Homo sapiens: one gene and its partner. The protein of the gene in region 2 purifies or fractionates together with the protein of the main gene of each other region. This does not show direct contact. Each region holds a gene or a part of one and is shown on either strand. Other genes may lie near its edges.

What was found. The genes of interacting proteins can lie anywhere in the genome.
Region 1: the proteins of CASP2 (region 2) and PIDD1 purify together in Homo sapiens (affinity purification with western blotting; 5 studies listed by BioGRID and IntAct, with this or other methods). This does not show direct contact.

Annotation. Positions count from the first base shown.
Region 1 is NC_000011.10:798,103-802,430, forward strand, and holds the end of PIDD1 (p53-induced death domain-containing protein 1), read right to left. Parts: intron 4,295-4,328; coding exon 4,093-4,294; intron 3,989-4,092; coding exon 3,863-3,988; intron 3,523-3,862; coding exon 3,343-3,522; intron 3,264-3,342; coding exon 3,116-3,263; intron 3,019-3,115; coding exon 2,883-3,018; coding exon of another isoform or gene 2,811-2,882; coding exon 2,660-2,810; intron 2,565-2,659; coding exon 2,441-2,564; intron 2,350-2,440; coding exon 2,231-2,349; intron 2,143-2,230; coding exon 2,029-2,142; intron 1,913-2,028; coding exon 1,713-1,912; intron 1,464-1,712; coding exon 1,205-1,463; 3' UTR 1,082-1,204; downstream 1-1,081. Other genes in the region: PANO1 (proapoptotic nucleolar protein 1), read left to right, coding at 1-171. UniProt on the Homo sapiens protein: Component of the DNA damage/stress response pathway that functions downstream of p53/TP53 and can either promote cell survival or apoptosis.
Region 2 is NC_000007.14:143,304,834-143,308,459, forward strand, and holds the end of CASP2 (caspase-2 isoform 1 preproprotein), read left to right. Parts: intron 1-106; coding exon 107-238; 3' UTR 239-2,863; downstream 2,864-3,626. UniProt on the Homo sapiens protein: Is a regulator of the cascade of caspases responsible for apoptosis execution. Might function by either activating some proteins required for cell death or inactivating proteins necessary for cell survival.

The sequences.
Region 1 (4,328 bases), on a different chromosome or scaffold from region 2:
CCACGTTGTTCGGGCAGCTGTCACCTCCCTCGGCCGCCGCAGCACCTCTCGCCCCCGCAGCCCGGCCGCGTTCGGATGGGCGCAGCAGAAGGGAGCCGCCGGGCAGACACTCACCACGCTCGCCGCCGCCGCCGCGCTCGCCTGCCCGCCCCGCGCTCGGCCAGCACCTAGGCGGGGAGGCGCGTCCGCTCGGCGCCGCGCGCGCTCCGCCCTCGGCCTCCTCCGGGCTTCGGCTCCCCCTCCTGGCCGTCGAGGCTACTGCGCCCAGCCAGGCCACAGCCACGCGCCCACCCGCCCCCTGGCCGTGGGTTCCCCCGGGCAGGGTGGCAGTTCTGCGCGCAGAGGCCGGGCCGCGCGTCCCCAAGGTCCTTTCTTGGTTTCCGGGCCTCAGGCCCCTGCAGGCACAAGGACCCGCGGGGCGCGGGCAGGTGGCAGAGCGCCGGTGGATGAGGGTGCCCTGGGGGAGGCGTGGCCTCCAGGGCAGACACAGGTGATCCGTGGAACTGCTGGGCCAGCGCAATGGAGAAGTGGAGGCACAACCCCACCCGCCGAACAGCGACTTTGTATCCAAAGCACCCCACTTGGGGCTGGGCGCAGTGGCTCACACCTGCAATCCCAGCACTTTTGGAGGCCGAGGCAGGCGGATCACTTAAGGTCAGGAGTTCGAGACCAGCCTGGCCAACATGGTGAAACCCCGTCTACTAAAAATACAAAAATTAGCCAGCGTGGTGGCAAGTGCCCTAGTCCCAGCTACTTGAGAGGGTGACGCAGAATCGCTTGAACCTGGGAGGCAGAGGTTGCAGTGAGCTGAGATCATGCCACTGCACTCCAGCCTGGGTGACAGAAACTCCATTTAAAAAAAAAAAAAAAGTAGCCCATGTGGGTTACTTTGTAGCACAGCTCCTCCCTCCCAGGAAGATGAGGACCCACAGGAGGCCCCAGGCACAGTGGGAGAGGACAGGACCAGGATGTGGGGCACCTGTGCACACAGGCCTCCCTCCCCGCAGGGGCCAGGCCTCTACCCCACCACCCTCCGCCCTCCAACGGCTTCTCCATCCAACAAATAAATCAAGCTCTGAGGTGAAAGAAACAGTGCAGTTTTGTTGCTCACAGGGACCCGTCCCCACACACTGGAGAGACTTGAAGGTGGGGGCTCTGCCCATCCACTGGGGAATATCTGGGCCAGCCTAAAAGTCTGTGGGGCCTAGGCCTGGGCAGGCTCTGGGGGCTGTGGAGCCGAGGAGCCAGGCAGAGCGGGGTCCTTGGGGGCCAAGCCCATGCGTCGGATGCTGTCCTGGTACTTGCGGCGGCCGAGCTCCAAGACTGCGCGCACCTCTTCAGCCACGTCCTGCCGGTCACTCTGCTCCAGGGCCTGCACCAGGAGCCCCACAGCCCCTGGCTGCCCAGCCTGGCGCTCAGCCCAGGAGAAGAGCATGTGACGGATCTGCTCATCCAGATCATCCCTGCAGGCAGAGGATGGGCGACAGAGGGGTCCTGTCCACCTGCCCAGGACCCCCCACCACACTCTGCCTCGGAGTGTGGGGGAGTTCCCGGCTCCTGGGGCCAGGTGCGGCCAGACCTTTCCTTTCCAGCCTGGTGTTTGCCCTTCCCCCACCTCCCCTGGAAGAAACTTCTGTCAGAATCAGGTGGGCCCTCCAGGCAGCCAGGGCTCAGCCCTGGGGCTGGCAGCCAGCGGGCAGTGGGAGCCTCACCGGAACTCGTGCCGGATGCGCTGCACCTCCCGGTAGGACACCCCCAGGTGCAGGGCCACGGCTGGCCAGTCCAGACCCAGACGCCCAGCCACACTCAGCAGGTTGCTCTGCGTCAGAAAGCCGGTCTCGGCATCTCCCAGATTCAAGGGTGCCAAGGAGAGGCCAGCCCCCCGCCGTGGCCCCTCGGACCCTCGAAGTCTCTGTTGGAAGGAAAAAGTGCATTAAGCCCTGGGCTCCACCCCCAACTCCACCATGTCACCCTGGTCACCCCTGGGCCTCGGTCCTGCCCCGCCCCTCTGCTGTCCCTCAGTCCCACCGGCAGCTTGATGGGCAGAGTGGCCATCCACAGGGCGTCTGCGCCCTTCCTCTGCCGGGCAGCCTCAGCCTCCTCGGGCACCCGCACAGGCACCGCGCCACGGTAGAAGGACACCTGAAGGGGCATCGAATGGGGTTCGGAGTTCGGTCCTCTGCCCAAGCGGCCTGGGGGGCCTCTCCCCTCACCCACTCCCCTCGCCCACCTGGCCCCGCACAGCCTGAGCCTCCCGGTCCAGAGTGGTGGTCACGTATACCTCCTTCACATTCTTCAGGTGCGAGTAGAAGACAAAGCAGATTCTGCCCTCCACACAGTCAGGGCGGTCTAGGGGACAGGGGTGGGCTGAGCAAGGAGGGCTCGGGGAGGACGGTAAGGCTCCCCCTCCAGGGCAGGGAGCATCCACCAGCATCCCTACCAGCATCCACGTCGATGCCGCGCTCGAAGGCCGCAAAGAACTCTTCGCCCTCGAACATCTCCACCGTGTCAGAGGGCTCGGGGCCCCGGTACCGCTCCAGCAGCCGCCGAAGGGTGGCGTCCACCTGCGGGGAAGCCCGTGCAGCTCAGGACCCAAAGCTCTGCACCCCACCCCAGCCCTCTGGTCACCACCCTGCTGCCCTCCGGCCCGTGCCCCCACCTTGTTTCGGGGCAGGCACTGCAGCAGGACCTGCTCAGGGTCCCGGCGCCGCTGCAGAGCGATGAGGTTCACACGGTGCAGCCGCAGCCGCTCCCAGGCCTTCCGAGCCAGGCCTCCCACACAGTTCTTGGTGGTGTACCAGAGCCAGTACCTGGGAGAGCTGGGGGTGAGGAGGGCTGTACAGACTGGGGGAGGGGGGCTGAGAAAGCTGGGGGGCACTGACCAGGAGAAGTGTGTGACCTGGAAGCGTGCGTACAGGTGGGTGAGCTCCAGGACCACCTGAGCTGTGATGTCATCCCAGGTGGCTGCAGGAGGGGCCCAGTACAACAGGTGCAGGCGGGAGCGGTCCAGACTGAGGCCTGGGGATGGGAGGGGCAGCGAGCTGAGGCCTCCTGGCCGGAGACCCCCTCCACCCTATGGCCACAGGTCCAGGTATGCCCCATGGCTGCCTCTCACCTGTGATGCCAGAGGGCAGAGGCAGCTGCACGGTGACCGGTTGGAGGAAGCTGGGGGGACCGCTCTGTGACAGGCACAGCAGGGGGCTCACTGCAGCCTCTGGTTCTCCCAGGAGGGCCTGCAGCTCTCGGCCAGCCATGCGCACCACCTGGGGCAGACAGGCCCCCTGAGCACCTGCCTGTGGGCTGAGGCGCGGCCTGCCACCCTCAGTGCTGTCCTGGCCATACCTGCATGGAGACTCGACGAGGCTCCTCAGTGGCCCCAGGGGGGAAGATGACTTTGACCCCAGGATGACCCGAGGAGCACAGCAGTGTCCCCTCCGGTGGCACCAGGCAGGCATTGGACACAGGGCGGGAAACCACAAGGAACCAGGAGAAGTGGGGCACCTGGCAGTGAGCCCAGAGCCGCTGGGATGGGGGAGAGAGGAGGTCACAGGAGCCTGGGTCAGGGCACAGCCAGTCAGGGACACAGGGAGCAGGATCCAGGAGAGACGGGGCGGGGTGGAAGGTGCCAGGGACACAGGGAGCAGGATCCAGGAGGGACGGGGTGGGGTGGAAGTTGCCAGGGACACAGGGAAGCAGGATCCAGGAGGGACGGGGTGGGGTGGAAGGTGCCAGGGACATAGGGAAGCAGGATCCAGGAGGGACGGGGCAGGGTGGAAGGTGCCAGGGTGAGGCTCTGGGCAGAGGTGCACGGCTCAGGGCAGCAGCTCTCCACTCGCCACCGGCAGGCCTGGGTGGCCCTCACCTGGGGTGCCTCTTCCTCCAGGTAGGTCTCCAGGTCACCCCAGCTGTTGTCATTCCGGGTCCTGACCACCACTTCACGGCAGCGCCGGGCCTGCGGTGGGGTGAAGAGCAGCCACAGCCCCACATCCTGCCAGACAAGGATGGTGTGAGCACTGGAGCCATGCCCGGGCCCGCACACTGCCCCTGCCATGCCCTGGCCCACACACTGCCCCCGCCACGCCCTGTCCATGCCTGCTGGAAGGCCACCCCATGGGGCTGCAGCTCCAGCACATGGCTGAGCAGGGCGTCATGAGGACCCAGGGGGACGAGGCCTGGCTCCGGCAGCAGCAGCCGATAGCGGATGGTGATGGGGGTGGCGGTGGCTCCCGCTGGGAACTGCAGGCGGACGCCACAGGCCAGGGTCACTGAGCAGCCTTGAGGGGTCACAGGAAAGCTGAGTGAGGAAGGAGCGAGCAACAGGTTAGACC
Region 2 (3,626 bases):
TCCTCCTCTCTTGAATGCTCTTTCATAGTCCGTCTCCCCTTCCCGTTTGCTGCTCTCCTGAAGCCCGAGATTCTCAGACTTGGGCCTATTGGTTCTGCCCCTCCAGGTGAACGCACTTATCAAGGATCGGGAAGGTTATGCTCCTGGCACAGAATTCCACCGGTGCAAGGAGATGTCTGAATACTGCAGCACTCTGTGCCGCCACCTCTACCTGTTCCCAGGACACCCTCCCACATGATGTCACCTCCCCATCATCCACGCCAAGTGGAAGCCACTGGACCACAGGAGGTGTGATAGAGCCTTTGATCTTCAGGATGCACGGTTTCTGTTCTGCCCCCTCAGGGATGTGGGAATCTCCCAGACTTGTTTCCTGTGCCCATCATCTCTGCCTTTGAGTGTGGGACTCCAGGCCAGCTCCTTTTCTGTGAAGCCCTTTGCCTGTAGAGCCAGCCTTGGTTGGACCTATTGCCAGGAATGTTTCAGCTGCAGTTGAAGAGCCTGACAAGTGAAGTTGTAAACACAGTGTGGTTATGGGGAGAGGGCATATAAATTCCCCATATTTGTGTTCAGTTCCAGCTTTTGTAGATGGCACTTTAGTGATTGCTTTTATTACATTAGTTAAGATGTCTGAGAGACCATCTCCTATCTTTTATTTCATTCATATCCTCCGCCCTTTTTGTCCTAGAGTGAGAGTTTGGAAGGTGTCCAAATTTAATGTAGACATTATCTTTTGGCTCTGAAGAAGCAAACATGACTAGAGACGCACCTTGCTGCAGTGTCCAGAAGCGGCCTGTGCGTTCCCTTCAGTACTGCAGCGCCACCCAGTGGAAGGACACTCTTGGCTCGTTTGGGCTCAAGGCACCGCAGCCTGTCAGCCAACATTGCCTTGCATTTGTACCTTATTGATCTTTGCCCATGGAAGTCTCAAAGATCTTTCGTTGGTTGTTTCTCTGAGCTTTGTTACTGAAATGAGCCTCGTGGGGAGCATCAGAGAAGGCCAGGAAGAATGGTGTGTTTCCCTAGACTCTGTAACCACCTCTCTGTCTTTTTCCTTCCTGAGAAACGTCCATCTCTCTCCCTTACTATTCCCACTTTCATTCAATCAACCTGCACTTCATATCTAGATTTCTAGAAAAGCTTCCTAGCTTATCTCCCTGCTTCATATCTCTCCCTTCTTTACCTTCATTTCATCCTGTTGGCTGCTGCCACCAAATCTGTCTAGAATCCTGCTTTACAGGATCATGTAAATGCTCAAAGATGTAATGTAGTTCTTTGTTCCTGCTTTCTCTTTCAGTATTAAACTCTCCTTTGATATTATGTGGCTTTTATTTCAGTGCCATACATGTTATTGTTTTCAACCTAGAAACCTTTATCCCTGCTTATCTGAAACTTCCCAACTTCCCTGTTCTTTAAGACTTTTTTTTTTTTTTTTTTTTTTTTTGAGACAGAGTCTCGCTCTGTCGCCCAGGCTGGAGGGCAGTGGCACGATCTCAGCTCACTGCAAGCTCCAACTCCCGGGTTCACGCCATTCTCCTGCCTCAGCCTTCCAAGTAGCTGGGACTACAGGTGCCCGCCACCGTGCCCGGCTAATTTTTTTGTATTTTTAGTAGAGACAGGGTTTCACCATGTTAGCCGGGATGGTCTTGATCTCCTGACCTCATGATCCACCCACCTCAGCCTCCCAAAGTGTTGGGATTACAGGCGTGAGCCACTGCGCCCGGGCAAGACCTTTTTTTAAAAAAAAAAAAAAAAAAACTTCCATTCTTTCTTCCTCCAGTCTGTTCTCACATAACAGAGTAGTTTTGGTTTTTAATTTTTTTTGGTTGTTTGCTGTTTTTTGTTTTTTAAGGTGAGTTCTCACTATGTTTCTCAGACTGGTCTCGAACTCCTGGCCTCAAGCCATCTTCCCGCCTCAGCCTCTCAAATAGCTGGGCTTACAGGCATGAGCCACCACACCTGGCCAGGATTTGGTTGTTTAAATATAAATCTGATCACCCCCCTGCTTAGAACCCTTCTGCTTTCTATTACCCCTCATTTAAAATGTAAACTCTTCACCTTGGTTTATGAGAACTGGTTCTTGCCTTCCCCTTGAACCTCATTAAATGGTGATTTCTTGCTAAGCTCCAGCCCGAGTGGTCTCCTCTCAGCTTCTAATTTTGTGCTCTTTCCTGCCCTTTTCCTGGGCCTTCTCAGCTCTCCACCCCCACCACTCTTGACTCAGGTGGTGTCCTTCTTCCTCAAGTCTTGACAATTCCCGGGCCCTTCAGTCCCTGAGCAGTCTACTTCTGTGTCTGTCACCACATCTTGTCTTTTCCCCTCATTGCATTTATTGCAGTTTATATATATGCTACTTTTACTTGTTCATTTCTGTCTCCCCTACCAGGCTGTAAATGAGGGCAGAAACCTTGTTTGTTTTATTCACCATCATGTACCAAGTGCTTGGCACATAGTGGGCCTTCATTAAATGTTTGTTGAATAAAAGAGGGAAGAAGGCAAGCCAACCTTAGCTACAATCCTACCTTTTGATAAAATGTTCCTTTTGACAATATACACGGATTATTATTTGTACTTTGTTTTTCCATGTGTTTTGCTTTTATCCACTGGCATTTTTAGCTCCTTGAAGACATATCATGTGTGAGATAACTTCCTTCACATCTCCCATGGTCCCTAGCAAAATGCTAGGCCTGTAGTAGTCAAGGTGCTCAATAAATATTTGTTTGGGTGGTTTGTGAGCCTTGCTGCCAAGTCCTGCCTTTGGGTCGACATAGTATGGAAGTATTTGAGAGAGAGAACCTTTCCACTCCCACTGCCAGGATTTTGTATTGCCATCGGGTGCCAAATAAATGCTCATATTTATTACTGATGTGTGCTCAATATCTGTTTCTGTAGATACTCAGTCCTCTGAAGCCCACAGATTTCGTTTCCTTAGCCCCTTACACTGCAGCATTCCTTACCACCTCACAAGGCATACCCAGACCTGAAAACCCTTCTTATTTTGCTGCTGTGATCCTGTAAATATATGCAGGTGTGGGCCCATCTCAGTTTGCGTAGTCCTGGGATTTCTCACAGATGAAATGGAAGTTATTAGCAAACAGTGCTGGTTCTTGATTATTTAGACTATGAGATGTAGGCTGCCATAACAGATTGGGCTGGAATAGAAGGATGGGAGAGTGAAGATAGTAAAATTCCATTTCTTACCTGGTTGCATTTAAGGTCTTCTAGAGTGGGCATAGATTGTAAGAGAATTCTAGTGCAGCATAGAAGAGATCAAAGCAATGAATTTGTGTAAGTTGGGATATTTTGGGGGTGCATTGTATCTAAAGGATATGCCTGAGAGGTAAGTGCAGGTGCAGATGGGCCATGGAATTTGGCAAGAGATGGAATGTTCTGTAGGAACTTTGTACAGAAGTTTTGGTAGGAAACAAAACTTTTTTTTTTAAATACGGGATTTCACCATGTTGGCCAGGCTGGTCTCTAACTCCTGGCCTCAAGTGATCAGCCCGCTTCGGCCTCCCAAAGTGCTAGGATTATAGGTATGAGCCACCTATAACAAACCAGAAACAAAACTTTTTTGTTTGGTAGGAAACAGCTGTGGGAGCTGGAAATATTGTTGAGTCATACAGAGA